Linked DNA regions of Homo sapiens. The protein of the gene in region 3 purifies or fractionates together with the protein of the main gene of each other region. This does not show direct contact. Each region holds a gene or a part of one and is shown on either strand. Other genes may lie near its edges.

Region 1 (7,155 bases), on a different chromosome or scaffold from region 3:
ACATGCAGCCTTTCAGATCTGTGTGGACCCCAGAAGATCCGTGAAGAATATGAATTGATTCCATGCGGACATGAATGAGTCCTTAAACCTAGAACATCATGTACATCATCCTCCTTAATAATAGTATTGATTATTTGGTTCTATGCTGGGGACCGGAGGGGATGAGATGGTTTCCACCAGAATGCTCACTGAGCTCTATTACCCTTCCCTGTTCCCTGTATTTTTTTTTTTTTTCTGAGACAGTCTTGCTCTGTCGCCCAGGTGGGAGTGCAGTGGCACGATCTCAGCTCACTGCAAACTCCACCTCCCAGGTTCAAGCAATTCTTCTGCCTCAGCCTCCCGAGTAGCTGGGACTACAGGTGTGTGCTGCCATGCCCAGCTAATTTTTGTATTTTTAGTAGAGACGGGGTTTCACTATCTTGGCCAGGATGGTCTTGATCTCCTGACCTCGTGATCCGCCCGCCTCTGCCTCCCCAAGTGCTGGGATTACAGGCGTGAGCCACCATGCCCAGCCCCCTATATTTCTTTTTTTTGAGACAGGGTCTCGCTCTGTCCAGGCTGGAGTGCAGTGGCGTGATCTTGGCTCATTGAAACCTCAACCTCATGGGTTCAGGCGATTCTCCTGCCTCAGCCTCCTTTGTAGCTGCGATTACAGGCATGTGCCACCACACCTGTCTAGTTTTTTGTATTTTTAGTAGAGACAAGGTTTCACCATGTTGGCCAAGCTGGTCTCAAACTCCTGACCTCAAGTGATCCATCTGCCTCAGCCTCCCAAAACGCTGGGATTACAAGCATGAGCCACCGCACCTGGCCCCTTCCCTGTATTTCTAAGAACTCTCTTTTCCCCTGCTTTCTCTGGATTTTGGAGCCCACCAAGGTATGGACACTAATCCTCTTCTGATTTTAAGGTTTGGCAAACCTAGCAGCTCTGTAGGATTCATGCCGTGGCGGAGGTGTACCTAAGTTGGAGTGTATGTGGGTTCTGAGAGAGGATAAATATGGAGATGCTGAGGGAAGAGCTCCAGGATCTCTCTTCTAGACATCTCAGTTTCTCCTCCTCGTTCCTGTTTTCATCAGGTCTGGGATCTGCCGATATGGGGGATATGAAGACCCCTGATTTTGATGACCTCCTTGCTGCCTTTGACATCCCTGACATTGATGCGAATGAAGCCATCCATTCTGGGCCAGAAGAAAATGAGGGGCCTGGAGGCCCAGGGAAGCCAGAACCAGGTGTAGGAAGTGAATCTGAAGACACAGCAGCAGCCTCTGCTGGGGATGGCCCTGGAGTTCCAGCCCAGGCCTCTGACCATGGCCTGCCACCGCCAGACATTTCTGTAGTCAGTGTCATTGTCAAGAACACTGTGTGTCCCGAGCAGTCTGAGGCCCTGGCTGGAGGCTCAGCAGGAGACGGGGCCCAGGCTGCTGGGGTAACTAAAGAAGGGCCTGTGGGGCCTCATCGAATGCAGAATGGTTTTGGGAGCCCTGAACCTTCCCTCCCAGGAACTCCCCACTCTCCTGCTCCTCCCAGTGGGGGCACCTGGAAAGAAAAAGGCATGGAAGGCAAAACTCCCTTGGACCTGTTTGCTCATTTTGGCCCTGAGCCAGGGGACCACTCAGATCCGCTGCCTCCCTCTGCACCCTCTCCCACTCGGGAGGGGGCTCTGACCCCGCCTCCTTTCCCCTCTTCCTTTGAGCTGGCCCAGGAGAATGGCCCAGGCATGCAGCCACCTGTTTCTTCCCCACCATTGGGGGCCTTGAAGCAGGAGAGCTGCAGCCCCCATCATCCCCAGGTCCTAGCCCAACAAGGCTCAGGCTCCAGCCCTAAGGCCACGGACATCCCTGCCAGTGCCTCGCCTCCCCCAGTTGCTGGGGTGCCCTTCTTCAAGCAGTCTCCAGGGCACCAGAGCCCTCTTGCCTCCCCCAAAGTGCCCGTCTGTCAGCCCTTGAAGGAAGAAGATGATGATGAGGGGCCAGTGGACAAGTCTTCCCCAGGAAGTCCCCAGAGTCCCTCTAGTGGGGCCGAGGCTGCAGATGAGGACAGCAATGACTCCCCTGCCTCCAGCTCCTCTAGGCCTCTTAAGGTGCGGATCAAGACCATTAAAACATCCTGCGGGAATATCACAAGGACTGTAACTCAGGTCCCCTCAGATCCTGATCCACCTGCCCCCTTGGCTGAGGGGGCCTTCTTGGCTGAGGCTAGCCTCTTGAAGCTGTCCCCTGCAACACCTACTTCTGAGGGTCCAAAGGTGGTGAGCGTACAGTTGGGTGATGGTACAAGGCTGAAAGGCACTGTGCTGCCTGTGGCCACCATCCAGAACGCCAGTACTGCCATGCTGATGGCAGCCAGTGTGGCTCGCAAGGCTGTGGTGCTGCCTGGGGGGACTGCCACCAGCCCTAAGATGATTGCTAAGAACGTGCTAGGCCTGGTGCCCCAAGCCCTGCCTAAGGCTGACGGGCGGGCAGGGCTGGGGACTGGGGGACAGAAGGTGAATGGTGCCTCGGTGGTGATGGTGCAACCTTCAAAGACAGCTACTGGGCCAAGTACAGGGGGCGGCACAGTGATATCACGGACCCAGTCCAGCCTGGTGGAGGCCTTCAACAAGATCCTCAACAGCAAGAACCTGCTCCCTGCCTATAGGCCAAACCTGAGCCCACCAGCTGAGGCTGGGCTGGCCCTGCCTCCCACCGGCTACCGCTGCCTGGAGTGTGGGGATGCCTTCTCATTGGAGAAGAGCCTGGCACGGCACTATGACCGTCGGAGCATGCGCATCGAGGTCACCTGCAACCACTGCGCCCGCCGCCTGGTCTTCTTCAACAAGTGCAGCCTGCTCCTGCATGCACGTGAACACAAGGACAAGGGGCTCGTCATGCAGTGCTCACATTTGGTCATGAGGCCTGTAGCCCTTGACCAGATGGTGGGGCAGCCGGACATCACACCGCTGCTGCCTGTAGCTGTCCCACCTGTCTCTGGACCTCTGGCCTTGCCTGCCTTGGGCAAGGGTGAGGGGGCCATCACCTCCTCTGCCATTACTACAGTTGCTGCTGAGGCCCCTGTCCTGCCGCTCTCCACAGAGCCGCCTGCTGCCCCGGCCACCTCTGCTTACACATGCTTTCGCTGCCTGGAGTGCAAGGAACAGTGCCGGGACAAGGCTGGCATGGCAGCTCACTTCCAGCAGCTCGGCCCCCCTGCCCCTGGGGCCACCAGCAATGTGAGTCACCTTTCACAGCCCTTCTGTGGGGACAGGATCTAGGAAGGCGTTGGGGGCTTGGTTAGAAGTAATGGAGACAGGACACTCCTCACCGACTTTCCTTGTTTAACCCACTCGACAGGTGTGCCCAACCTGCCCCATGATGCTCCCCAATCGCTGCAGCTTCAGCGCCCACCAGCGCATGCATAAGAATCGACCCCCCCATGTCTGTCCTGAGTGTGGGGGCAACTTCCTGCAAGCCAATTTTCAGACCCATCTCCGGGAGGCCTGTCTGCACGTCTCTCGCCGTGTAGGATACAGGTGCCTCGGACCCTTCCTCCATAGAACTGTAGGGTTTCGTGTGTCCTAGCCTCAGCCTCAGATGGCCTTTCAAGATCCCCTATCTTCCCTGCTATATCCCTCAGCCCTGTTGTTTTGCCAGACTCAACCCTGAGATAGTACGTCCTGCCTTCCCGTCGTCCCCCATGGAGATGGGGGGAAGCAGGGCCACCTCTGGAGCTCCAGCTCTCCCTTGGCAGCCTCCCTTGGGGCACAGCCTCTGCACCTCTCTCCTTTCTCCACCCTGCTCATGCTCCACTACTGATTTCCTTCTTGTAGTCTACCCAGTCCCAGAGAATAAATGTATGGTCCCGGGGTGGGCATGGAGATGCCTCCCACCTCACCACAGGGCCTCCTGCTTCCTCCCTAGGTGCCCCAGCTGTTCAGTGGTGTTTGGGGGTGTGAACTCCATCAAGTCCCACATCCAGACGTCGCACTGCGAGGTTTTCCACAAGTGCCCCATCTGCCCCATGGCCTTCAAGTCTGGGCCAAGTGCCCATGCCCACCTCTACTCCCAGCATCCCAGCTTCCAAACTCAGCAGGCCAAGTGAGGCCCGGGGGAGGGCCGGGCTGGGCCAGGGAGGGCTGGTGGGGCGCAGGAGGGGAGGGGCTGCACCCAACCCTGCCTGATGTCTGCACTGTCCTCACTTCAGGCTGATCTACAAGTGCGCCATGTGCGACACAGTCTTCACTCACAAACCCCTCCTCTCCTCACACTTCGACCAGCACTTGCTGCCCCAGCGTGTCAGTGTCTTTAAGTGCCCGTCTTGTCCTCTGCTCTTTGCCCAAAAAAGGACCATGCTGGAACATCTCAAGGTACAGGAGCAGAGGGATGGGGAATGGGTGCTTAGCTGTACTGACCTGGGGCTGGGGCCACATACTTCAGAAGTGGGGGGCTTTGGCATAGCCAGGCCCTCCCCCACAACAGCAACCTCCCTTGTCTCCTCTCACAGAACACCCATCAGTCTGGGCGCTTGGAGGAGACTGCTGGGAAAGGGGCCGGGGGTGCCCTGCTGACCCCCAAGACTGAGCCTGAGGAGCTGGCTGTTTCTCAGGGAGGGGCAGCCCCTGCTACTGAGGAGTCGTCTTCATCTTCAGAAGAGGAGGAAGTACCCAGCTCCCCTGAGCCCCCCCGTCCAGCCAAACGGCCTCGGCGGGAACTAGGGAGCAAAGGCCTCAAGGGTGGGGGTGGGGGGCCTGGAGGCTGGACCTGTGGCCTGTGTCACTCCTGGTTCCCTGAGCGTGATGAATACGTGGCCCACATGAAGAAGGAGCATGGCAAGGTGAGTGGGCCCCAAGGGGAGTACCATGGGCTGGGGGCAGCATTGGGACTGCCAGTGTGACAGTGGGGACGGGGTCCTGGAGCCTGGCTCTGACATCTACCCCTGCTCTCCTAGTCAGTGAAAAAGTTCCCCTGTCGCCTGTGTGAGCGCTCCTTCTGCTCCGCCCCCAGCCTGAGGCGCCATGTCAGAGTTAATCACGAGGGCATCAAGCGAGTTTACCCCTGCAGGTAAGTCTTGCTCCCCGCTTCCTCTTCCTGCCCAGCACGTGACTCTCCCTGTATGCCAAAGTACCTGTGCACCTGCGACGTGTCTAAGTGGCCTGATGGTTGGGGTCTCCCTCTGCTCTGGCAGCCCCCTCCTCAGAAGCAAGGGCCCTGGCCTTCGGGCTGTGCCGCTGCTGCCATCCTGTCCTCTCCCATTTCAGGTATTGCACAGAGGGAAAACGCACCTTCAGCAGCCGCCTGATCCTAGAGAAACATGTCCAGGTCCGGCACGGCTTGCAGCTTGGGGCCCAGTCCCCTGGCCGGGGGACCACCTTGGCTCGGGGTTCCAGTGCCAGAGCCCAGGTAGGCAGAGGCCCGGCCTGCTGTGCTAGGGCTTTGAGTGGGAAACTGGAAGGCAGAGACCATGGCCTCAGGAAGCGAGCATGGGGGTGCCAGGGACAGTAGGGGTGGTGGTAAGGCCCAGTTTCTTCCACTTTTCTTCAGGGGCCAGGTCGGAAACGCCGCCAGTCTTCTGACTCTTGCAGTGAGGAGCCTGACAGCACGACACCGCCAGCCAAGTCCCCCAGGGGCGGACCTGGATCTGGAGGCCATGGCCCTCTGCGCTACCGGAGCAGCAGCTCCACAGAACAGAGCCTCATGATGGGGTTGAGGGTGGAGGATGGTGCCCAGCAGTGCCTCGACTGTGGCTTGTGCTTTGCCTCCCCTGGCTCCCTGAGCCGACACCGTTTCATCAGCCACAAGAAGAGACGGGGTGTGGGTAAAGCCAGTGCCCTGGGGCTGGGGGATGGGGAGGAAGAGGCCCCTCCATCAAGGTCTGACCCCGATGGTGGAGACTCACCCCTGCCTGCTTCTGGAGGCCCACTGACCTGTAAGGTCTGTGGCAAGAGCTGCGACAGCCCTCTAAACCTCAAGACCCACTTCCGCACGCATGGCATGGCGTTCATCAGGGCTCGGCAGGGGGCTGTTGGGGACAACTAGTCTCCAAGGCCTGGGACTGACCAGCCCCTTCCTCTTGGAGCCTGGTTTTCCCTACTGCTGCCTGATCCCTCGGCTGGGGAGTTTTCATTAACATTAATATTTTGTTAATTCCTGTCTCTCCAACCTGAAGAAGAAGAGCATTTGAGGATTATTCTAGTTATTTGCAACCTCCCTTTGGGTTTGGCCCTGGAGTCCTAGTAGAGTGGACCCTCCATTCCTCCTTTCTGAGCCCAACACTAATTAATTTTATGCTCCTGCTGCAGAACCCCCAGTGTGGGCCTGGGGGTGGGAGGATGGGACTTAGGTATGCCTGCTAGACAGGTTCAGGGAAGGACTGATGGGGGTGTCATGGATGGACACACCTCTCCACAATTCCTTCAGGCATGGACTGGAACTTTCCTCCTCTAGGCCGGGCCCTGCCCTAGTGCCCACCCCCGCCCCCGCCCCCGCCCAACCCCAACTCACTGGCACTCAAGCCCCCTACCCCTGCAGTGCCTTTCACTTCTTTTTTTCCCCAGAAATCCGGGGCGGGGGGGTGGGGGGTTGGTAGGGATGAGTCCTGTCAAGGGGGCCACAGGAGAGGAGGGGACAGGCTCTCAGGAATCCTTTATTCTTGTAGTAATAATAATACTAACAAACAGTTGGGGAACTAGGGAGAAAACCAGACCATTAAAACTGTTTGTGGTCGAATCTCCATTCAGGCCTCTCTTTTTCTGTGACTTGGACAATGTGGAGTTGAAGCGGGTGAGAGAACATGGAAGGCCCGCCCTTCTCAGGGAAGAGGTGGTAGTGACCAAGACAGGCAGGGAAAAAGCAAACTTCTATGTAGTGCCTTTTGTATCTTGGACACTGAGGCATCCGTTCATACCTCATCACCCATCTCCCCCTGCACTCCCCCAGAAAACCTGGAAATGACACAAGTGGCTAACTAAGGACTTTATTTCAAACAAAAATTAAAAATAAAAAATTGAGAGCTCTTTTCCCTGGGTTTGGGGAAGGAGTCAGGGTAGGGAATTCCACATGGCTAGGCCAGTACCCTCAGTACACTGGAGGGCTGTGGGAATTCCCTTCCTTGCCCATGATGGGGAACCTCAGCAAGTGCAGGGCCCACGCAGCGCCCGCCAGCAAGGGGAGCTTGGGCCA
Region 2 (7,000 bases), on a different chromosome or scaffold from region 3:
AGTCTGGCTCCGGTGCCCATACTCCTAACCAAAATTTTATGCTGATATTCACTAGATGCACACACTAATATTACTGCTACTATCAATGGCAGTTAACATGAGTAAGTGCTTGCAATGTGCCAGGTGGCTTCTTAAGCTCTTTATACTTAGTAACTTATTTTACCTCAGTAAGAACCCTAAGAAGCAGGTACTCACTGCCATTTAATACATGAGAAAACTGAGATACAGAGAGATTACATGACTTGTTCAAGGTTACACAGCTGGGATTTGAGCCCAGAGAGATCTAAACTACCACACTCTTCTATTAATACTTCTCTACATCAGGGTAACCAATTACATGCTTAACTTATGCCCATTTCACAGAAAAAACTAAGACTCTAACCTGACAATATCAAGTAGCTTGGAGAGAAGGGCTACTTGACATGAGACAAAGCAAGGTTTTCTGGAGACCAAATCTCAGCAGTGTTGCAAAAGTGGGAGTAGTGGGCACTCGATGCCAGTGGTATTCTCTGATGCAAGAGCCTTGGAACCAACAATTCCTCCTCCCTCCCCCAACCTTTGCCTTAAAAATTCCCCATTCAGTGCAGGCAGATGCCTATAAATTTTCAGATGCCCCTACCTGGTAATGGATGACATGCTGGACTTTAGGAATATCCAGACCCCGAGCTGCCACATCTGTTGCCAAGAGAACACAGCTGGGGTAGAGAGAGAAAGCTTATTAATAATAACTAACAGCTATCTTTAATCAAATTCTTACCAACTGCTGAGCATCCTAAACATTACAGTCCTTACCAATACTCTGTAAGATATCACTTGTATACCCTTTTACAGAAAAACTGAGGCTCGGAGAGATTAACTTCCCAAGCTATCTACATGGCTATTCAGCTGTGGAGTCTGGATCCAAATTTGGGACTCATTGACCCCAACCAACATGCCATACTCTGCAATGATAAAGACTCCCTTCAGTGAGTTAAATGAGGCCATACATATTCTGGGTCAGTGACTCCTCTCCTAGCACCCTCTCATTTACTTCCTCCCAGTGGCACACAGACTTCCTTGCTCTTCCCCAAACAAACCAAGCATGCTCTCACCTCCAAGCCTTTGCACTTGCTACTCCTTAAGGCCTTAAAGGGTCTTGCCTCAGATGTCCATATGACTCACTTCATTACTTTCTTCAGCTCTCTGCTCAATTCTCACTTCATCAGAGACTGACCACACATACCCAATCTCTTTTCTCCAACCCCTGCTCGACTTACTTCTTAGGATCACTTGGCAGACTGTGGGCTTACTTTGCAATTTATTATCTCCCTCTACTAGAATGTAAGCTTCATGAGAGCAAGGACTTTGCATTACTCACTGCTGTTATTACCACCACAGAGAACAACATCTGGTTCATGGTAAGCACTTGATAAATGTGTTGGATGATGTTTCTCAATGTGTGGTTCATGGAAAGTCAAAAGTACTTGAGGTGCTTCAAAACATAAGACTCTGGCCCTTCAGGGTCCTCACTCCCTGCATGTCTGAGCTGAGGCCGGGAAATGCAATGCAAATCCTAGTTTGTAAAACATTAAACTACTGCTCTGGATCAAGGTCAGCAAACTTTTTCTGTAAAGAGCCAGAGAGCATTTCCAGCTTTGTGAACCACACAGTCTCTATGGCAACTATTCAACTCTGCCGCAAAAGAGGATATTGACAATACATAAATGGGTCTTGCTGTGTTCCAGTAAAACGTCTACTAAAAAAACAGGCAGCAGCCAGGTGTGATGGCATGCACTGGTAGTCCTAGCTACTTAGGAGGCTAAGGTGGGATTGCTTGAGCCCGTGAGTTCAAGTCTAACCTGGGCAACATAGCAAGACCCCATCTTAGAAAAAAAAAGGGCAGCAAGCAAGATTTGGCACGAGGCCTATAGTTTGCCAAGCCTTGTTCTAAGCTAATCTCAGTAAACCACTGATACTACTTACCAATTTTTAAAAACCAGTAAATCAAACACTTGTTCTAGAAACTAATTACCCCATGACCTGACAAAACACTGGCAAAAGACACTTTGTAGTCTGCCTCAACTTTCCAGGCCCTCATCTTGACAATCTGCACCCCATTCCCTGAGCATCAGTCTGGTCCAAAGGCAGATGGACAAAGACATCAGGAATAAGAAATAGCATGGGCTCTGAGGTCCGACAGGCTTGTCTGAGGCCCAGCTCTACCACTTCCAGGCAGAGAAACCTTGGGCACACTGATCAGCTTTTCTAGACCTCATTTTTCCATCTATAAATGAGAATAGTGATAATGGTAATAAGTAGTAAAGGGACTAGAAATTATTAAAGCTAACATTTAGCAATATATACATACTATGTGCTAGAGACTGTTCTAAACACTTTACACGCATGAATTTACAATCAATCTTCATAACAACCCTAGAATGGGTTCTATTATTATCCAAATAATGAGAAAATTAAAGTACAGAGAAATTAAATAACTTGACCACCTAAGGAGTGACAGAACTAGGATTTGATTTCAGGCATTCTGGTTCCAGGATCTGTGCTCTTAACCATGAATCTATTCTGCTTCCTCTTAAGGATGTTAGGAGAGTAACTGAATGTGATTCTGAATCTAAAGTGCCAGCACAGGACCTAATCTATTGTCTATACATTCAATATTATGTATTGTCACCTATATTCATTAGTATTGAAGTTTCTGTATGGCATTTAACTGCAACCAAATTCACTAAATGACAGTAACCTTGCCAAATGCTGTGCAAAAAAAAAAAAAGGCTACCTACTACTGAGACAAGGCCCCTATGACAGAAGGTGGCTTTTCTACCATTTCCCCACCATCCTGACCCCTTTTACCCCAGTAACTAACTAGAGGTTAAGCCTCTGGGGACAGTCCTAACTTACTCTTCCAGACGGGCAAACTGCTCCAGGTTTCTGAGCCTCTGCTTCTGGTGCATACAGGCATGCAGGGTCAAGGGCATGATATCAAGGACTTTGAGGAGCCCAGAGAGGCGTTTGATGCAGGAGATACTGTTGGCAAACACTAAGCTGCGGCCTGGATACTGCATCAGGAAGTAGTACAAGTAGAAGTCTTTCTCATCAGTCTCACAATGGATCTTGGTCTCTGTTAGCGTCTCCACCGTGGCCTCATTCCTTGTGAGGTCAATGACCTTGGGCTTGCCCCTCATGCCAATTTTCTGCATAAGGAGGTCAAGTTTGGCTGTTTTATCCATTTTCTTGGTGTGCTTCTTATGAAGGATTCGAGCAGGAGCCTGATGCACCAGGGTGAGTGTGGCAGAAAAAACAAGCGTTTGTCTCTTTGGGTTGTATTGGGAGTCATTGAGCATCTCTAGCAGCTGTGAGAGCTCAGCAAAATGGCCTTTCTCAACCATCCGGTCAGCCTCATCCACTACCAGGCACCTGCAGATCCAGAGAGACCCATATCATTGGTCAGCAGCGGGTTAAGAGGAATCATCTATAGCACACCCTACACTCATCCTAAACACACACACACACACACGTACACACCCCACTACCACCACCACCATCAGGCCCTCAACTAATCTCCCTCATGCACTCTTGGCTTTCTAAAGGCCAGGGTCTGGATGATACCACACCATAGCATTCTGCGATGAGAAGAAGGCATTGCCCACACCATGTCACCTAAGGCTCATTTCAGAAAAGGCAGTGAGGGGGAAAAGAGAAGTGCCATCTATTACCTGAGCTGCCGAAGGTTCCTCAAATGATAATGCTTTTCTTTAATTAATTCCCACAGCCGGCCTGGAGTAGCAACCACAATCTCAGGACGACGGTTCAGCATCCTCTGCTGTTTCTGCGTGGACATTCCACCAACCAAAATAGCAGTTTTAATTCCTATGGGACAGAAAACATAAGGGACACTTATTCAATCTGGGTGATCATTTTCTTACATGGCTGACACAGGCACCCCAGATTAGCAGAGACAGACATCAGCACAGTGTAATGCCCTAGAGCATTGCTAAAAGAGCAGGCCTGGCCAGACTGTTGACGCCACTCCTAGAGGGCTTACCAAGTCTTCTGTGATCTGAGCTCTACTTCTTCAGCCTCATTTCTTTTCTACTCCCTCCCCTCCAACCACACCAAAGGGGCTGAATTTGAACCCAGGTATGCTTACCTCCAAAGCTCTGGGAAAACGGAGCACTGGGGCACCATAATGCTGGGAGGAATATGACCTGCAGCTGTGCTACACCTCTCCTAGGAAGCCCTTCCATTCCCTCAGTTAGAATTATTCTGAAAGGTCCACTAATGCCCTGTTGTTTTCGTCTCTGGTGCAGAAATTCTCATAGTATCATGTGGGTAAAGGGCTTAGCAATAGTAACAACTTGGTAATTAATTGCTGCTTTCATTATAAAATTAAGATTCCCAGAGTGAAGCCCTTCCCAGAGTGAATTCCCTGAGAGAATTAAATCCTAATAGCTTAGAGCAGGGATCAGCCAACTTTTTCTGAAAGGGTCACTAGTGAACATTACTGACCTCATAGGCCAGATGGTCTCTGTCACAACTATTAACTCTACTCAACTTCACCTTTGTAGTACAAAACCAACCACAGACAATATAAAACCAAATGGGTGTGGGTGTGTTCCGGCAAAACTTTATTTATAAAACCAGACAGTTTGCTAATCCCTGCCCTGAGCATCTACTGTATCCAATAAATTTCCTATGCATCCACAATGGCACCAACCATGTATTATCCTTGAGGGAACTGAAAAAATGTCACTATATCAATTTTCTGTAGGGCTTAATTGTCTGGCTTATAGATGAGAGTGGCTTACCCTAGAGGGCAGGAGCCACAGCTCATTCATCTTTACCAACGAGCATTTGGGATTTACCTAGAAAATATTTATTAAATGGAACTAAACCTCACCTGTAAACCTGGCCACAGCATCAATGTGCTGTTTGACCTGGACGGCCAGCTCTCGAGTGGGAGTCAGAACCAGTCCAAGCAGAGGACGCTTTGGATATGCCTTACAGGTGGCGCTTTTGTCATCCAACTCCTGTTTTAGATTTCCAGTCTGCTCTTTATCAAGATTTTCCTCCTCATTCTCATTCTGTTTGGGAACAGGTTTCTCCCTGATCAGGGAAGAAGGCCCTTCACCAGCATCATCGTCACCAAAGAGCAACGCCTGGTCTGAGACAGTGCCTCCAGTCTTGGCTCTGGCCTCGGCTGCAATATCACTGGGCAGTGCTTCACTCTCAATTACAGTATCGTCAGGCAATGCATCAGACTCAGCTTCAGCCTTGCCTGGTGATCTAGTCTCAGCTCCGGCCTCAGTTCTGGTCTCTCCAGGTGGTGCTTCGGTGTTACTTGGAGGAGGGGCAGCATTCCTCTTCTGCCACTGCAACACCGCATGAATCATTGGGATGGCAAAGGCAAGAGTTTTCCCACTTCCTTAAAAGTAAAAAAACAAAACAAAGTAAAAACAGTGTGAATCAACAGATGAACATACTTTAGTCTGGAATTCATTCTTTTGCATAGAATAAGGTAGCCAAGTGCCACCCTGACCGACCCAAAGCTCCTCCACTCTACACAGATTTCCCCAGAAGGAACCAGAAGGCACATGTAAATTAGAACCCGAGGAAAAGTATGGCAGGCTAGCACTGAGGTCTTAGGTCACCAGTAACGAATTACAAATGTCCAAGAAATGAAACAATAAAGAGAGAAAGGGCAAGTTTTGGGTGTATGTGTTGTTTCTGTGAGGAGCAGGAAACAGTAATCCATACAATACTTTCCCAAGACTTTTCTTTGGTGAGAAAGGAGTAAAAGAAAATTTTCTTAAGTTTTCAGAAAATGTAAATATAAAACTTTTGTCTATGCCTGAACATTTTCAAACTGGCCTTTGAATGTACACAGAGTCCAAATCATCTGGGTGGTCAAAACAAAACATCTCAGGCTGAGAATTTAAAGAAGTTCCAAAGTGATAATGCCCTAGGCAGAAGCCAATAAATGCTTTCTCAAGGGAGAAACCATTACCATACATCTCCAAAAATTTTCACAATTTTCAAAGGAAATAAGCAGCTCTCAGTAAAAAATAACCACACACACAAAAATAAGATACTATAAGGAAAAAAGAGAGCAAAAACAGACACATGAAACTTTTGATAAGAAGAACAGCAGACTTATCAGAAACAATGAAAAGCCAGAAGACAGTGTAGCAATATTTTTTATTTGAATGCCTAAAAATAAAACCCTGACAATCTATAACCCTACACCCACTCAAAACAAAATGTGAAATAAAGACTTTAGGCATATAAAAGCTGAAATAATTCACCAGCAGCAAATGTAAGCTATCAGAAATATTAGTCTTTCATGCAATAGCAAAGATAACATAAAATGAAAATCTGGATGTACCCAAAGAAATAAAGAGCAACCGAAACAGTAACTACGTAGGTAAATATTTAAAAACTTCTTTTTATGGCCAGGCATGGTGGCTCATGCCTGTAATCCCAACACTTGGGGAGGTCTAGGCGGGAGGATCAAGACCAGCCTGGGCAACATAGTGAGACTCCCATCTTTAAAAAAATTTGCCAGGCATGGTGGCACACTCCTGTAGTCTTCGAAACTTGGGAGGCTGAGGCAGGAGGATTGCTTGAGCATGGGAGTTTGAGGCTGCAGTGAGCCATGATCGTGCCACTGCACTCCAGCATGGGTGACAGAGGGAGATACTGTCTCTAAAAACAAACAAAAAAACAAAACCCCTTATTTTTCTTATTTAAACATCTTTAAAAATAATTGTTTAAAGCAAATATAATAAAAATGTATTCTAGAATCTCTAACACATATGAAGTATACAACAAAAAGCACAAAGGAGGGGAGAAATGGAAAATACTCTTGTAAGGTTCTTACATTGTATGCGAAGTAGTAAATTACTTGAGGGTAAACTATAATAAAAGATATATACTATAAACCCCAAAGCAATCACTAAAAAGACGTTAAGAATTATAGCTAATAAGACAACAAAAAAGATAAAAT
Region 3 (7,951 bases):
AAACCATACTTTTGTAGATTATTTTTCCATGAAGGCAATTTGACAAGCCTAACAAAGACCAAGTTGTTCAAACTATGTTTCTAGGAATATAGTTTAACAGAAACAAGAACAAGTTGAAAACTGTTATGACTATTCATATGTCTCTATATTGTACAGGCAAGTAAGACTGTTGTTCTTCCAAATGTTCCCAATTGAAATCAAAAGAATATCTGTACAGCTCAATTTTCACAATAAGTTTAGAATCAGAAAAAAAAATTTTACTAAATCCTAATGAAATAACAATCTTCCACATAAATTAGGTCACAAAACAAGTAAGAAAGCATTCAAAGTTGCGCTGTCTTTCTTTAAAGAACCCTTGTCTAGGCAACATATTTAACACTTTAACCCCTTCAATTCTCCCTGAAAAGTATTTTTCCATTCATCATCATTGGGGAGTAAGTACTCCTTCCTCGAAAGCTCTTAACGACAGCACAGTCTTCACTCTAGGCCCAATTTTTACCTGGCCCATGCCTCTAGCCTTTTGTTCAGTTTCTCCTGCTTAGGGCACCTTTCATCCCATCTAGATGTGTCTCTCTTTAACTATTCTAGGAGTTGATAAAAGGGCTAGGAAGTAGGAAGTTGGGAAGAAGGGGAGGGGCGTAAGAGCTCTAGCACTCTATTTTACAGGCCAACTTCTTTGCCTCTGAAAATGACAGAGCCAAAATGAAATAAAAACCTTGCTTTTACAAATGTTTCTGAGCTATCACTTTTTTAAGAGAGGATTGGGAGGCTAAGGAGGGCGGATCACGAGATCGGGGTTCGAGACCAGCCTGGCCAGCATGGTGAAACCCCGTCTCTACTAAAAATATAAAAATTAGCCGGGCGTGGCGGCGCGCGCCTGTAGTCCCAGCTACTCGGGAGGCTGAGGCAGGAGAATCGCTTGAACCCGGGAGGTGGAGGTTGCAGTGAGCCGAGATCGCGCCACTGCACTCCAACCTGGGCGACAGAGCAAGACTCCGTCCTCCGTCTCAAAAAAAAAAAAAAAAAAAAAAAAAAGGAAAACAGGGAGAGAGAGGGACCTTGGCAGGAGCCAATGTAGGGCAGGTAGCAATAGAAAGTGACTAGAGGTGAAGGAAGAGCAATGAAGTACCATAAATCACACAGAACAAGTGGCTCACTGCTTTTCTCCTCTGAGTTCATTAACGTCCAGTAACTGTCCACAGGGCATGTGCCCATACTGCTCAATGCAGAGCTGAGTAGGTGGAACAGGCTCCCAAAGCTAGAAATCCAAGTGACAGCAACCAGTTCAGAGGCCCTGGGAATAAACAGGGTCCAAGCAGTGCAGATAAAGGCAGTACAATCTACAGTATCATTTGCTTGGCTTACAAGTAGTGTGAAGGATGACCTCGTAGCATGTGATATTCCAGAACAGCATGAAGGTCATATGGAAGTGGAGAAGCATACCCACCACCGTCTCAATCTTGAGGTTGAGAGAACTGAATATCCAAAGGAAACAGGGTGCAGAAAAGTCAGCAAAAACAAAGCACAATAGAAGGCATACTCATTGCTGATGCCCAAGCACAGGTCCAGCAGAAGGTGGTAGGAGACCTTGTGCAGGAGTATTCCCAAGGGCAAATGTTAACCAGACTGGAACCCAAAGGGCCTGGGGATCTCTACAGGCTCCCTTAGCGGGCGACGTCGGGCTCTACGGACTCCTTCACGCAACAGGTAGTATTGCAGTGGATTTGGCCACAGATCCTCTTTAATAATCTCAGCAATTTTGTCGGACTCTGGAAGGCTGTGGTCTGAAAACCAAGTGAAGAAGCTGCAGATGAGGTCTTGGTTTCTGCGAATGAAGGACTGGGGTTCATGCCCCCTGCGCCATATAATTGGAGTAGAAAGAGACACCACTCGGCCGGAGGATCTTACCTCATATTCCTTGACAATCAGCTTGTTTCTGAAGTAGGGGTTTCTTCTAAAGAAGAACTTGAACTTGCAACCGGTTCTAGGGTGTCTGAGTTCCTTCACCTCTAAATTGGTTATGTACCTTAACATCTCTGCATCTTGGCCCCTAATCATGGCGGACAACTGGGGGTGGTTTCGAAAAGCAGTCATCCAGAAGCCCGGGATATTCTGAATGATGTAGTTCCTCCGCTCCAGGTAGTGTCGACGCATCCGCCCAAACTTGTGCTCCAGCTGTTGGAAGGCCCTGTCGGCCTGAGCATTCACAGTGTCCAGTTCCAGCTGGATGGCCTCCAGAGGGTCCATGCGGAGAGCCTCATGCAAAGGCCAGGGCCCTTCTTCCTCCCTCGCCTCCTCCTCCAATCTATCCTCCTCCGCCACTTCTATTTCTTCACCTTCTGGCGGCTGCTCCTCTACCTCCATCTGCTCCTCCATTACCTCCTTCTCCGCCAGGCCTTCCTTCACCACCTCAGCGCTCTCCCTCTCAGCCACGGCTGCTGAGACGGTGGCGCACTTTCCTGTCTTCACCTCCTCCGCCTCAGCCTCCGCCCCCGCCGTCAGCTCAGACGCGGATCTCTGGGCGCCACAGATTTCTAGGGCCTTCTCTCCACCCTGAACGCCCTTTTTCAGGCTGCGGTCGGCTGCCATCACCACAGAAGCGGCTGCCAGGCCTTCGGCGGGAGGCTGGCCCTCTTCCTGCCCGGCTTTGATCGCCACATGACCGCGACCCCCAACAACTCGGATCTGGGGAGTACCGCCACGGCCCGCGGCATCCTGGGGTACGCCCCCCTCCTCTGAAGGCGGTGGAGGCGGGAGCGCGACGGTCTCCGAGCCTCCCTCACCCGGCTCCGCCATCACCTGTGTCGCCTCGCTTTGGTCGCGGAGCCTCAGGTACTGGTGTGCGTCCTGGTCGCTCGGGACTTGGTCAGAAATAATGATGCTGTGGGTTTGGAGGGGAGTGGTCCTCTTGACCCCATCCAGGCCGCTCATGTTGCTAACAGTCGGACCAACCGCAGGCGAACGCCCGTTTTCCTCAGAGGCCGAACTGGGAGCTAACCGCCGCTCGCACCGCCCACCCTACAGTCTCACTAACATTTCAGCGGCGGTGTCGTCAGGACTGGAGATCTCACGGTATCGCGAGAACTTGCTGAGCCCGGGATTGGTTCCGCCGCTCCCTGCCAGCCAACCGGATTCTCTGGGCTTTATTTCTGTGAATTTACCCATAGCAACAGTAATTTTACCTACGTAAATAAATGTCGATTGTGCTGAGTCTGGAAGCGCGGACGACCCACCTTGAGATGCATCTAGCGACTGCTCCCAGCATGTAGGAGCAGTTGTAAAATCACAGCCGTAACAGTGCCTGCTCTCCAGTGTCTGAAAACAAATGTTTTTCTGGTCTTCACTTTTTTGAGGCAGGAAGGTAAATCTATTCCCTGTTACTCCACGTAACTAGCAGCAAAAGACTTCTCTTTAAGATTAATAGCAAAATGTTTCCCCCCTTCTTAGTAAAAGTGACATAAAAATATCAATTCTTGCCTCTACGGTTACTGGGGAAAAAAAGCTACTCAGCAGCCTCTTACCACTAAAGCGATGCATAGTATTCATTGCTAATTTTCGATTTATAATCTGCATCAAATAAGAGTTTGTGCTGCATAGTATCGGTAGAAATTAAGCCAGGATCAGTTTGCTAAATGTTCCATGCCTTTTCACTGCAAGAAAGAGGAAATTATAACTATTTCCAGCCCCAAGAACTTAATTTATTATCATATTTAGTTATGTAAGATAGGAATGTTTGGCTCTAACGAAGCATCTGTCTTTAGCAATCAGCTGAGTTCATTAGAGGGGGATGTCAATGTCTCTGGTTGAAGTGTTCCAGTTTGTTGACTTGTGAGTTAAACTGGTGCTGTCTTAGAGAGCTACAAGGCCTCAGAGAAATATCAGTGGGGGGAGCCACATACCACCATTTTGTGAGGAAAGGCTAGTTAAAATGGACAACTAAGATGGCCTTGAAGTAGAAAACAAACTTGCAAAGGGCAACATGCAGCTGGTGGACTCAAGGTATAAAAGAGGCAAACGTTATTTTCTACTTAATTTGCTTTGTGTGGTAGTAGCCTGATGGCCCTCAAAGATGTACCTGTCTTAGTTATGCGGCCAAAGGGACTTCGCAGATATGATTAAGTTAAAGATTTGGAGATGAGAAGATGATTCTGGATTATACAGGTGGGCCCTATGGAATTACAAATTTCTTATAAGAAGGAGGCAGGAGGGTCAGTCAGAGAAGATAAGAGGACGAAAGCACAGAGAGAGGGAAGGAATGGTGGAGAATAGGTGTGGGAGGGAGGAAAGGGAAATCGCTATGTTGCTGGCTTTGAAGATGGAGGAAGGAGCCAGGATCGTAGGAATAAAGGCAGCCTCTAGAAGCTTGAAAGGTAAGGAAATAGATTCAATCCTAGAGCCTCCAAAGGAATGACAACACCTTGAGGTTATTACCTCTAAACTCCAGCACTATAAGAAAATAAATTTGTGCATTTTAAGCTATTAAATTTGTGGTAATTTGTTACAGAAGCAATATGAAATGAATACACCTTGGATTAAGGTTTGGTTGCATCTATGGGTGCCTCAAGTTGTTTCTAATAGCAGCCCCTTCTACCTTGCTCATGGCTTCCCGTGAGTTCCTGCCCAACAGCTGTGATGTATTACAGCTTGAATCTGTCTTTCAATATCAAGACCAGAAATATACTTAGGCAAATGCACAGAAAGACAAAATTAAAGCCTAAACATACCACAAACGATATCTGAGGAGACTGTAAACTGCAAGAGGACATGATCATGGTTTCGTTTCCCTCTGTTTATCGAGTGCCTAGCACACTACCTTACACAGTATCCCATAGATTATTAAAATGTTAAATAAAGGAGCAAATGAGCAGAAAACAGTTTCTCTTGCTTGCAACTTGCTCCTTGCGGAAGAGAAGTAAGGGGCATATGGGTTGTCACTCTGCTCTCCTTCCTATCTGCCACTGGCAAACCAGAGGGCTGCTCTATTCTATATAGTAACAGTTTCCTACTCAGGAGAATGAATTTCTATATATGTTTCAAAGGCTCTAAAAGGATAGGAAAAACACAGAGAAAACAATTTTATTTTACAAATAATTTAAGTTTGTGTGGTCACACTGTATGACAAACGAACTCTGAAAAGACCAGCATATTTAGGTGAGTTTACATATCAAAGCCTCGGACTACCAGCACTGTATTTCCAATTCTCTCCTTTCTGAAAAAGTCAAGGTAATCATTTCAGGCTTTACTTCGTTTCTGTCTACAGAAATATATAATGCATTTCTCTCTACAAGTGATGGAGCCTGTGATGCATGGCTGGAATTACTTTTGGTGTAAATAAAAAGGAATATTGGAACTTTCCACAAAGACTGTTTCTAATTGCCATGAAATCATCTTCTATTTTGAACTGGTATAATTTCATTCGGCCTAAAGTGGAAACTTCTATTATTCCAATATGTCTCCTATTTTTTTTTAAGCAGAAAGGAGTGTCAGGCTTGGACCAATCTTAGAATATATGGCTTTATTTGTCAAAGAAGCCATTATGTAATTAATGTAATTAACACTCTTACCAGTAATGCTAGGAAAACTCTAATTAGGATCATGTAAGTATAATCAGGACTCTGCTGAATGTAATTTCCCCCAAATAACGTTGAGACTCTTTAAAGGAACTCTTCCTTCTCTTCTTGTCGAACATGTATAAAGCTGTGATAAGGAATATTTGAATATATAGAGAACGTGATTTAAAATTAGAAGTAATGTATCTCATGTTCTCTGTGTATTAGAAGAAAATTACATTAGAGAAGTGATTGTGATTATAACTATTCCTTGTAGGTGATGGAAAGCTCAGGTTATGATTGCTTTCGGACAAGTGCTCAGGAGAAGGGTCAGTAAAGGGCAAGGATTTTAGAGGGAAAAGCAAATATGCATACTTTATGTCCTATTTTTTTTTAAAGAAAGAATCTTTGCTTGGAAGGAGGAACTCTCTAGGAATGTCAACATGCACCAAGGCTCACGTGCTCAGGGAGTTATTTTGCCATACAGGCAAAGCTGTGGTTGCTATTCAACACAGAATATTGTACTTATTATAGTAGGACTATTACTTGTGGATTTTTTGTTCACCTTTTTGTATCTAAAAAGGCTTAAAAAGGATACCTGTTTCTTTTACATGACACAGGTTATCCTGCTATCTGGGAATTCTCTTTCTGGGTAGATGTTACACATTCTCTAAGACTTACCAAAAACCTGTCTTGCTTTAAAATGTGCTAGGCATTTTACATGCATTAAAGTGTCAAATTTCATAAAAGAGGAAACAGTAACACTGAGAGGCTAACTAACTTTACCAAAGTCATACATAAAGTAACTGGTAAATTCTTTCTCCCTTCTCCTGAGTGCATCTTTCCTAAGTAGCCTATGGCTCCTTAATCTTCCTCACCTGAATTCCTGCAACTCTTTTATGAGCTGCACCATGCAGTTTAGCACTTAATTGTGCTTCTCCTCTTAGGGACTAGTTGATTTATATGTGTCAGTCTCATCATCCCAGCATTCCAGCATCATCTCATGGGATGGGAGCATAGTTGCAGCTTCTTTTGCATTTATTCATCATAGCATGGGGCTCAGGTTTGGGTAGATTCTTTGTTGTTGTTGTTGTTGTTGTTGTTGTTGTTGTTGTTATGGAGTCTCACTCTGTCGCCCAGGCTGGAGTGCAGTGGCATGATCTTGGCTCACTGCAACCTCTGCCTCCCAGGTTCAAGCAATTCTCCTGCCTCAGCCTCCCGTGTAGCTGGGACTACAGACACTGGCCACCACACACGGCTAATTTTTGTATTTTTAGTAGAGAAGGGGTTTCCCCACGTTGGTCAGGCTGGTCTCGAATTCCCGACCTCAGGTGATCCGCCCGCCTCAGCCTCCCAAAGTGCTGGGATTACAGGCATGAGCCACTGCGCCCGGCTAGATTTGGGTAGATTCTTAACAATATTTGTTCATTTGAATAAAATAAACCTCAAATTATCTTACAAAAACAACAGTGTATCTGTACTGGCATATTTTATTTGCAGAGGAAATACATTTTGGCTATGCTTCATATATCACCTTTTTTGCACTTTAAAATATAGGATAAATTGGTCCATGACAGAGCATTTCTGTAATTGACAATAAACTTCACTACCCCCAAAGATAGTTGAATCTTTTCTAATACAGTTCTATGGGAAAACATCTGCAAAAAACCCTGAGGTTTTTCTCCATAATATCAAGGAATCATAGATTCTTTGGGAATGATTTCTCAGGTAGCAAGGAGTTTAGCGGAAGTTCAGACATTTTTGTTTTGCAGAAAGGTAGGTTTTATCATTATAATTAATGATAGCTTTCACTTATTTACTGCTCCTGATGTACCAGCCACTTTTATAAACAACATCCAGTGTGTCACATCTTTTAGTTGTCATAAGAACCCCATGAGGTAATTGCATTTATGACCTTCGTGTTACTCAATAGGAAACTGAGGCAAAGAGAGACTGTCACTTGGCCAAAATGGTACAGAAAGTAATAGACCCATGATTCGAACCCAGAAAGTTTGTCTCAAAAGCCTGTACTCTCTGAACAAGTGTGAACTCACTTTCTTTTTTTTATTATTATTATTATACTTTAAGTTCTAGGGTACATGTGCACAATGTGCAGGTTTGTTACATATGTATACTTGTGCCATGTTGGTGTGCTGCACCCATTAACTCGTCATTTACACATTAGGTATATCTCCTAATGCTATCCCTCCCCCCTCCCCCCTCCCCCAACCTCATGATAGGCCCCGGTGTGTGATGTTCCCCACCCTGTGTCCAAGTGTTCTCATTGTTCAATTCCCACCTATGAGTGATAATATGCAGTGTTTGGTTTTCTGTCCTTGCAATAGTTTGCTCAGAATGATGATTTCCAGCTTCATCCATGTCACTACAAAGGACATGACCTC
Region 4 (6,910 bases), about 92 Mb from region 3:
GCTGGATTCTGTGTCCTCATTAGTCTAACGAGTCTACTCTGTTGCCCACATCACCTCCCATTAGGACCACTATGCCCTTTTAAAAAGTGGTCTTTATAAGATGTAAGTATTATGACACCCTTCTGCATACAACTATTCAATGGCTTTTGATTAGCCTTAGGATAAAAATCCCGTCCTGCCGCACCGACTTGTCCATCTTGTGGGTAGCCACTTGTTACTACCTCTCTCAGTGTCCTTCCCAGACATGCTGCTTCCACTCCTCTCCCCTCAGATCCCCGTTTTGCTTAGTTACTTCCTCCTCATCTTTCAGGTCTCAAAGTAGTTGTCCCTTCACTGAATGCACCGACAACCTGGCCCAGTAAAGTTACTTTGTCGTCTGCGCCCAAATAATCCTACCCTTCCATCTGCTACATTCCTTAAATCTGCAATCCCTTGTTCAAAGCCTGCAAAAGAGCATGAGCTCCTTGAAGCAAAGACAGTATTAGTCATTTTTAATGTAAAGTATAAAAGAAAAGGAAATACATGTGTTCATTCATCTCACAAATACGTTTTTTTATTGCCTGTTATATACCAAGCACTGCTTTAGGCCCATTTAGCAGTGAGTCTGCCCTTGCGTAGGTTATATTGTAGTGGAGGAGAGAGTTCATAAACAAACAAAGTATGTTAAGTGCTAAGTGCCTCAGAGAAAAATAAAGCCAGAGAAGCGGATAGAGAATGTTAGGCAGTAGGATGTGTGGCATTTTAGAGATAGGGTGGTCAAGGAAGATGTAAGGCGGTAACACCCTGGTGGAGGCAGGAAGATCTGGGGGAGAGTGTTCTAAGTAGAGGGAACCACAGAAGTAAAGATTGAGGCAGGAACGATCTGAGCTTGTTCATGAAATGGCAAGAAGGTTGGAATGGTTAGAAGAGCATGAGTCAGGTGGAAAATGAGGTCCCAGATGCAGATAAGTATGATCATGTCAGTGACGTAGAGCGTGGTAGGGGTTTGGATTTCTAAGTGGGATAGGAACCCACTGGAGGTTTGAACTCAAATCTAGATCATTGGAAAGTTCAGAAGCAAGCAGAATACCTTGTGCAACATAATCCAGCCATTGACATTCTCAAAAGATACATCCAAAGACCTTTACAGATTCCCTAAGTGTGACTACAGGACTTTCTCTACAAGTCCCTGTCTTTTCTCTAAATACATAATCATGTTTATGTATATATACTCAATCTACAAGCTAACTCCATTTTATACTTTGATATTTTTCTCTCACTTAATTGCCAACTTTTCAAAACAATGGAAGATTTTTCAAATTCCTTTCTTATAGTTTTAGTATGTGCAATCCTAGGTACAGCACAGCCCATTTGTAATGAGATAAGAGTGGTAGGTGGTAGTGAGCTACGCTTGCTCAGTAGTAGGCTGAAAAGATTCAAATTAATGTCTTATCAGAATTACAAATTACACATCTTTGTAGGTGTCCTGAAGAATAGTTGAAAACATTAAATCCATGGATGTCAAATGTCTTTATTTCGATATAGTTAAAATTAATATTTGCCATGGTGAATCTGAGATAGGAAAAATATTTTAAGATAATTTCAGACTTCTGGAAAAGTTCCAAGAATAGTCAAAGAATTTCCATTTTCTTAAACCAGATTCCAAATATCAACATTTTATCACATTTGCTTTATCATTTCTTTGCTAGCATACTTTATTCTCTAAATTATTTGAGACTAAGAACAAATGTGATGTTCCTTTACTCCTAAATGTCTTAATACGTATTTCCTAAAACATGGACATCCTCTTACATAACCACAGTGCAGCTATCAAAATCAGGAAGTTAATACTGAAGTTATTTTCCAATCTAAAGACCCTACTCAGATTTTGCCACTTATCTCAGTAGTGCTTTTTATCACAAAGAAAATCTTAGATCACATATTGCATATAGGACTGGGGGTTGTGGTTCACACCTGTAATCCCAGCACTTTGGTAGGCCAAGGTGGGCAGATCACTTTAGGCCAGGAGTTCGAGACCAGCCTGACCAACATGGTGAAACCCCATCTCTACTAAAAATACAAAAATTAGCTGGGCATGGTGCCGCACACCTGTAATCCCAGCTACTCAGGGGGGCCGAGGCACAAGAATCGCTTGAATCAGGTAGACGGAGGTTGCAGTGAGCCAAGATTGAGCCACTGGACTCCATCCTGGGTGAAGAGCAAGACTCCATCTCAACAACAACAAAAAGAGGAGGCAGATTTCTGTTCAATAAGTGACATGCATTTCCATCAGTGATAGCTGATCAGTTGTGTAACAGGCTATCTTTGAGGAAGTGAGCTCTCAATCATTGGAGCCAATGATAACAGCATAGCTATAAATGGGATTCCTTCCTTGTGAGAGATTAAATTTAAATTCTGTGATTCTGTACATTAACTAAAAACAGTGTGCTGCAAAATATTACCACTCTGAAAATGACGGTGAGGAAGAATGTTTTTCTAAGTCTGAGGTTCCCAAACTTCCTTGGATCACGATGCCCTTAGTGTCTTAGTAATTTTTTCACAGTATCGGAAGACAAAAAATTTATTATGTTACAGATTCCTTTATGTTATTTCCCTTGCAACTTTAAAATATTCTGAGGTGCTATCGTGCCCAGCATAGCACCAGACATTCAGCTCACAGTTTGAGAACTGTGGATATAAGCAAAGACCTTAAATTGCGTGTCCTCTGGCATCATGACTTAAGATTTGCACGCATGTAAACAAAGGCTGCAAAGAAACACAAAGTAAAAGCAGTACATTTGGCATATAGATGATTTTAAAATATTTAAAACCTTTTAAATCATGTTCTTCTCCTGCTTTATTCTGTGGGTGCTATCAAGGCCCTTGTTTTTCTTAGTTCCTTTCTACAGGAAAGAGCTGTACAAATAACATAAGGCTTTCAAACTCTGGGGCAGTAACAATTCAAGGAATCTTCTAAGGAACCTGGCGTTTTGCGATGGAAATGAACTGTGTTCTCTTTTAGGACCATAGAATTTTTTGGCTGATTACAGGAATTATGTTCATGGGAAGTGGCCTCATCTGGAGGCGCCTGCTTTCATTCCTTGGACGACAGCTAGAAGCTCCATTGCCTCCTATGGTATGAAGGATATGGTTCACGGCGGTATTGTGGAAGGGTTATGATCATGGGCCCTAAAGTCAGAGCGCCTGGGATTAAGTTGTCACAGGCACTATGGCCCTTGCGAGTTGCTTTCTCAAACTTCCTTCAGTTTCCCTATCTGTCAGTTAAGTCGGTATTACCTGCTTCATAGGGTTATGGGAAGAATTAAACAATATGTGTAAAGCACTTACTAGCACACTGCCTAACACAATAAGTTAGAAATATAATTTGTGTAGAACTCTGACAACATACATTTAAACAGATGTTAGTAATTCTGGTATAAGGTTTGTCATAACCAAATGGAAATGTAGGAAACATTTATAACGTTCTTAAAAGATAGAAAATTCACCTCCATTTTCTTTGTACTTGAAGATGGCACCACTGGAATAAATACTTAAGACACTGATACTGCTTATAGTCCTTTCTTCACTGAGTAGTTACATAATACATCATTTTACTAGTGGCTTTTCTTTTAAAAAAGATACTAAAATTAATACTTCTGCTTTATTTAGATGGCTTCTTTACCTAAAAAGACTCTTCTGGCAGATAGAAGCATGGAATTGAAAAATAGCCTCAGACTGGATGGACTTGGATCAGGAAGGAGCATCCTAACAAACCGTTAGGAACAGCCCCGTGGATACTGAAGTTTTTTTTATGGTAGTTACAGGAAACTTCTGATACTCTTTTTATTATTTTCTTGTATAGAGTCAGACACTTGAAAAAAACTAATGTTTGAAGACAAAAATATTTTGGCAGTCACAATACCAGAACTGGATTGCATTTCCAGAATTCTGAGTTAAAGAAACAAAGTATTTGCTTTGTAAAAGGCCAAAATTCTATTTCCTACAAACTTTAAATGCTGTTTTTATAGATGTGATATGAGGCAACACAAGCACAGACAGTTGCATAGATTTTAATTTATACATATCAAGAAAAGTGCAATTTCATGCTGAATGAAGCGTAGGAACTTGACAAGCCCATAGGTAGCTATAGTTCTTTGTCAGTATAGGGAATTATGTTCATGTGAATTTCCTGATTCTCAGGTGACTAAAAAGCTAGCATTCTATGTATTAACCTTACAACAGACTCTGTAAGTTTGAGCTTTAAAAACCAAACTTTGACATAACCTTATTTCTTGTATTTGCCCCCTTTTTTTTATAAAAGGTGAATAAAAAGAAATAATTTAATATCACCATTGTATGGATTCCTAATCAAGATTTCACGTTCTCAGCCCCTGAGACTAGTTTTCTTTGCTCTCTGTAATTAGAGCCTTTGGAAGCAAAGTTGAAAGGAAGTATTTCCATTCTGTTACTGTTTTGTAGCACTTTGTCCATTTATTGATTTTTAAAGTAGATATTTAGATACCACCCCTGCCCTGCCCCAAAAAGAAAAATGTTTATTGTCCTGCTAATCTATATGCCTACACCTCAGAAGCTGACAGATGAGCTTCCTAAAACATGAGGATGAATAAATGTTAGAACTGTGATATCTTCTCATTTCCACAGAGATTTGGGTTTAAAACAAATGGCTAATATTTGTAAGCCTGAAAGCTGCCATCCTCTTTAACATCCTACCTACCTTTTAAAATATTTTCTGGAGGTTAAGTACAGTTAGGCACTAGAACATTTGTTAAGCCTCCCAAAGTAGTGTGCATGGAAGATTCTAGAGTGTCCAGCTCTTGCACTACAAATGTAATAATAACAGAATAAATACACTTACCCTGATGATATTGAGGGTACATGATTAGCCTAATGTGATGTCATATGAGGAAGTTTAGGAGTCCATTTTTCAGGTGGTTTGGTGATAGGAATAAAAATGTTACTCCCGTCGCTGATTTGGAAGAAAACCGATGAAGTACAAGTAAGGTTTCCCCACTCCTGTGTGTGGTCATGGGAAGCCATTAGAGGGAAGCTGCAGAACAGAATGGAACAGGACAGGCTGGGCTAGACTCGAGCACGCAGTGGCCCCTGTGCCACCACACTGTGGGTCAGGAACACGCGTCATGGTGTTCTTGTCGGAATGTGAACATACAGCACCCTCTAGCATTACGAATCTCTTAGGATTTTTAAGATTGTATTTGATAATACTTATATTTCACAGGGCACACTTTTGGCACACCTCAGAGCACACTGCTGCTATTTTGGGTCGTATCACTGTAAAATACATAATAAGTACTACTTAACTGTGACATGAAGAATTGGAATCCCAGAGGGCAACATTTGATTTGACTAAGATCAGGCATAAGATAGAATTTTTGTCATTTTTCCTTGCAGTTTTATTGACTTAGTTTATGAGCTTGGATAAAATAATTTTTTGATGAATCATGTCAATAAAAGGAAAAATAATGTAACTACCTCATAAGTCTGATAAAAGGAAGTTGCTAGTGTTTTATAGAATTTCTGAAGGTGGTTAAATCAAGTATGATTTCAAAATATCAACTAGTTCCACTTTTGTGATTGCAGGATGCTTCTTATACTAAAGTTCTCATAAATAATAAATCAGCTTATGCCAAAAATATATGAAGTTCCTTGGTTTTAAATTTTGAACTAAAATGGACTGAGCACATTAATTACTGTTTGAAAGTAGGTACCAAACACTGGGTTATGTGAGTGAGTAAGCAATCATATCGCCTGTCAAACACATCAAGTGTCGAACACGTCAAGGTGTGATACTGTCTTTGGAAGGCTCCTAAACAAATGTGAGCACAATTATTAACACCTTATTCTTCATGAACACAGACTGTTAAGCAGCACTAACCAATTTTATATTAAAAAGCTATTTATTTTGGTGAGTTATTCCAAGAGTTGTATACAGCTTTATTTTTTGGAATTGCAATATTAAAGTTGCACGTTGGATTTAACTCTCATGACTTTAGTAATACCTACAGAGGTGAGCTAATGGATGGTACATGGAGTAGGGACTGCAGAGACCCTAGTTTTGTCCCCACTCCATCTTCAAATAATTTTGGTCTCTTAGGTCTGTGATACAAAGGCATAAAACAATTCCTATCTTGAAGCCTTGAGAAAAGCTGTTACATATACGCAGATAGTAGCAAGACAGAAAATGCAAATATGTAAATGTCTTCTGATATCTTGAAATAAAGATAAATTTCAGTTAAACTTGTATAAGTTCAGATTTCTGTTAATGAGAAATTACAACCCTACAAGGTAAGGTCTTTACATTTTAGTTATTAAGCAGAATCAATGCTTAAAACTATAGTTAATACTTAGTGGAAAGAAAATTTAATCCATGTATCAGGATAATATATTAGACTGTCATGCATTAATTTTTTCCTGTATGCCAGGTTTTTTACATACGTGCCATATCAGTTGACCTTTTACAGTAGGAGTATAATTTACATTGTTTTTGACATTGGGGTTAGTATGGTTAAATGTCCTATAAACTTGAAGCTTGCTTCCATTTTTGTGGGTCTTAACCTCCACCTGGTGCTTGCTATTGGGTGTATTCAGGCATTGAGAAAAATATAAATCGTGAGGTAAATAATGGTCATGTTTAAACAGAGGCCTTATCATTTAGTGAAGCATAAAAACTGACACTATATAAATGCATCCGTCTAATGAAAAGACCCAGTACTGAGAAAAACATCCCTTTACTCAAGTGTCAGATGTCAGAGTGCTCTAACTGCTCAACTCATAAGTGAATACAACTAAGTAATTTCTGGTCCCCTAAAAATAACCATCCTTTTAATTAAAAGTAATTCTTCAGATAGGTTGGGCTACCAATAATTGTCCCTAAACAAAACCAAATGGCGCT

Evidence for each region.
Region 1: the proteins of TSPYL1 (region 3) and ZNF687 purify together in Homo sapiens (affinity purification with mass spectrometry; 3 studies listed by BioGRID and IntAct, with this or other methods). This does not show direct contact.
Region 2: the proteins of TSPYL1 (region 3) and DDX24 purify together in Homo sapiens (affinity purification with mass spectrometry; 4 studies listed by BioGRID and IntAct, with this or other methods). This does not show direct contact.
Region 4: the proteins of TSPYL1 (region 3) and MRS2 purify together in Homo sapiens (affinity purification with mass spectrometry; 2 studies listed by BioGRID and IntAct, with this or other methods). This does not show direct contact.

What each region holds. Positions count from the first base shown.
Region 1 is NC_000001.11:151,285,198-151,292,352, forward strand, and holds the end of ZNF687 (zinc finger protein 687), read left to right. Parts: intron 1-8; exon of another isoform or gene 9-877; intron 878-1,077; coding exon of another isoform or gene 1,078-1,094; coding exon 1,095-3,209; intron 3,210-3,330; coding exon 3,331-3,509; intron 3,510-3,897; coding exon 3,898-4,074; intron 4,075-4,180; coding exon 4,181-4,343; intron 4,344-4,480; coding exon 4,481-4,810; intron 4,811-4,924; coding exon 4,925-5,037; intron 5,038-5,234; coding exon 5,235-5,376; intron 5,377-5,517; coding exon 5,518-6,012; 3' UTR 6,013-6,979; downstream 6,980-7,155. UniProt on the Homo sapiens protein: May be involved in transcriptional regulation.
Region 2 is NC_000014.9:94,057,203-94,064,202, forward strand, and holds part of DDX24 (ATP-dependent RNA helicase DDX24), read right to left. Parts: intron 5,420-7,000; coding exon 4,895-5,419; intron 3,865-4,894; coding exon 3,711-3,864; intron 3,412-3,710; coding exon 2,896-3,411; intron 696-2,895; coding exon 620-695; intron 1-619. UniProt on the Homo sapiens protein: ATP-dependent RNA helicase that plays a role in various aspects of RNA metabolism including pre-mRNA splicing and is thereby involved in different biological processes such as cell cycle regulation or innate immunity.
Region 3 is NC_000006.12:116,276,900-116,284,850, forward strand, and holds the start of TSPYL1 (testis-specific Y-encoded-like protein 1), read right to left. Parts: upstream 3,032-7,951; 5' UTR 2,932-3,031; coding exon 1,618-2,931; 3' UTR 1-1,617.
Region 4 is NC_000006.12:24,419,936-24,426,845, forward strand, and holds the end of MRS2 (magnesium transporter MRS2 homolog, mitochondrial isoform b precursor), read left to right. Parts: intron 1-3,001; coding exon 3,002-3,115; coding exon of another isoform or gene 3,116-3,121; exon of another isoform or gene 3,122-3,542; intron 3,543-3,648; coding exon 3,649-3,759; 3' UTR 3,760-6,255; downstream 6,256-6,910. UniProt on the Homo sapiens protein: Magnesium transporter that mediates the influx of magnesium into the mitochondrial matrix and regulates magnesium metabolism. Also permeable to calcium, sodium and potassium ions.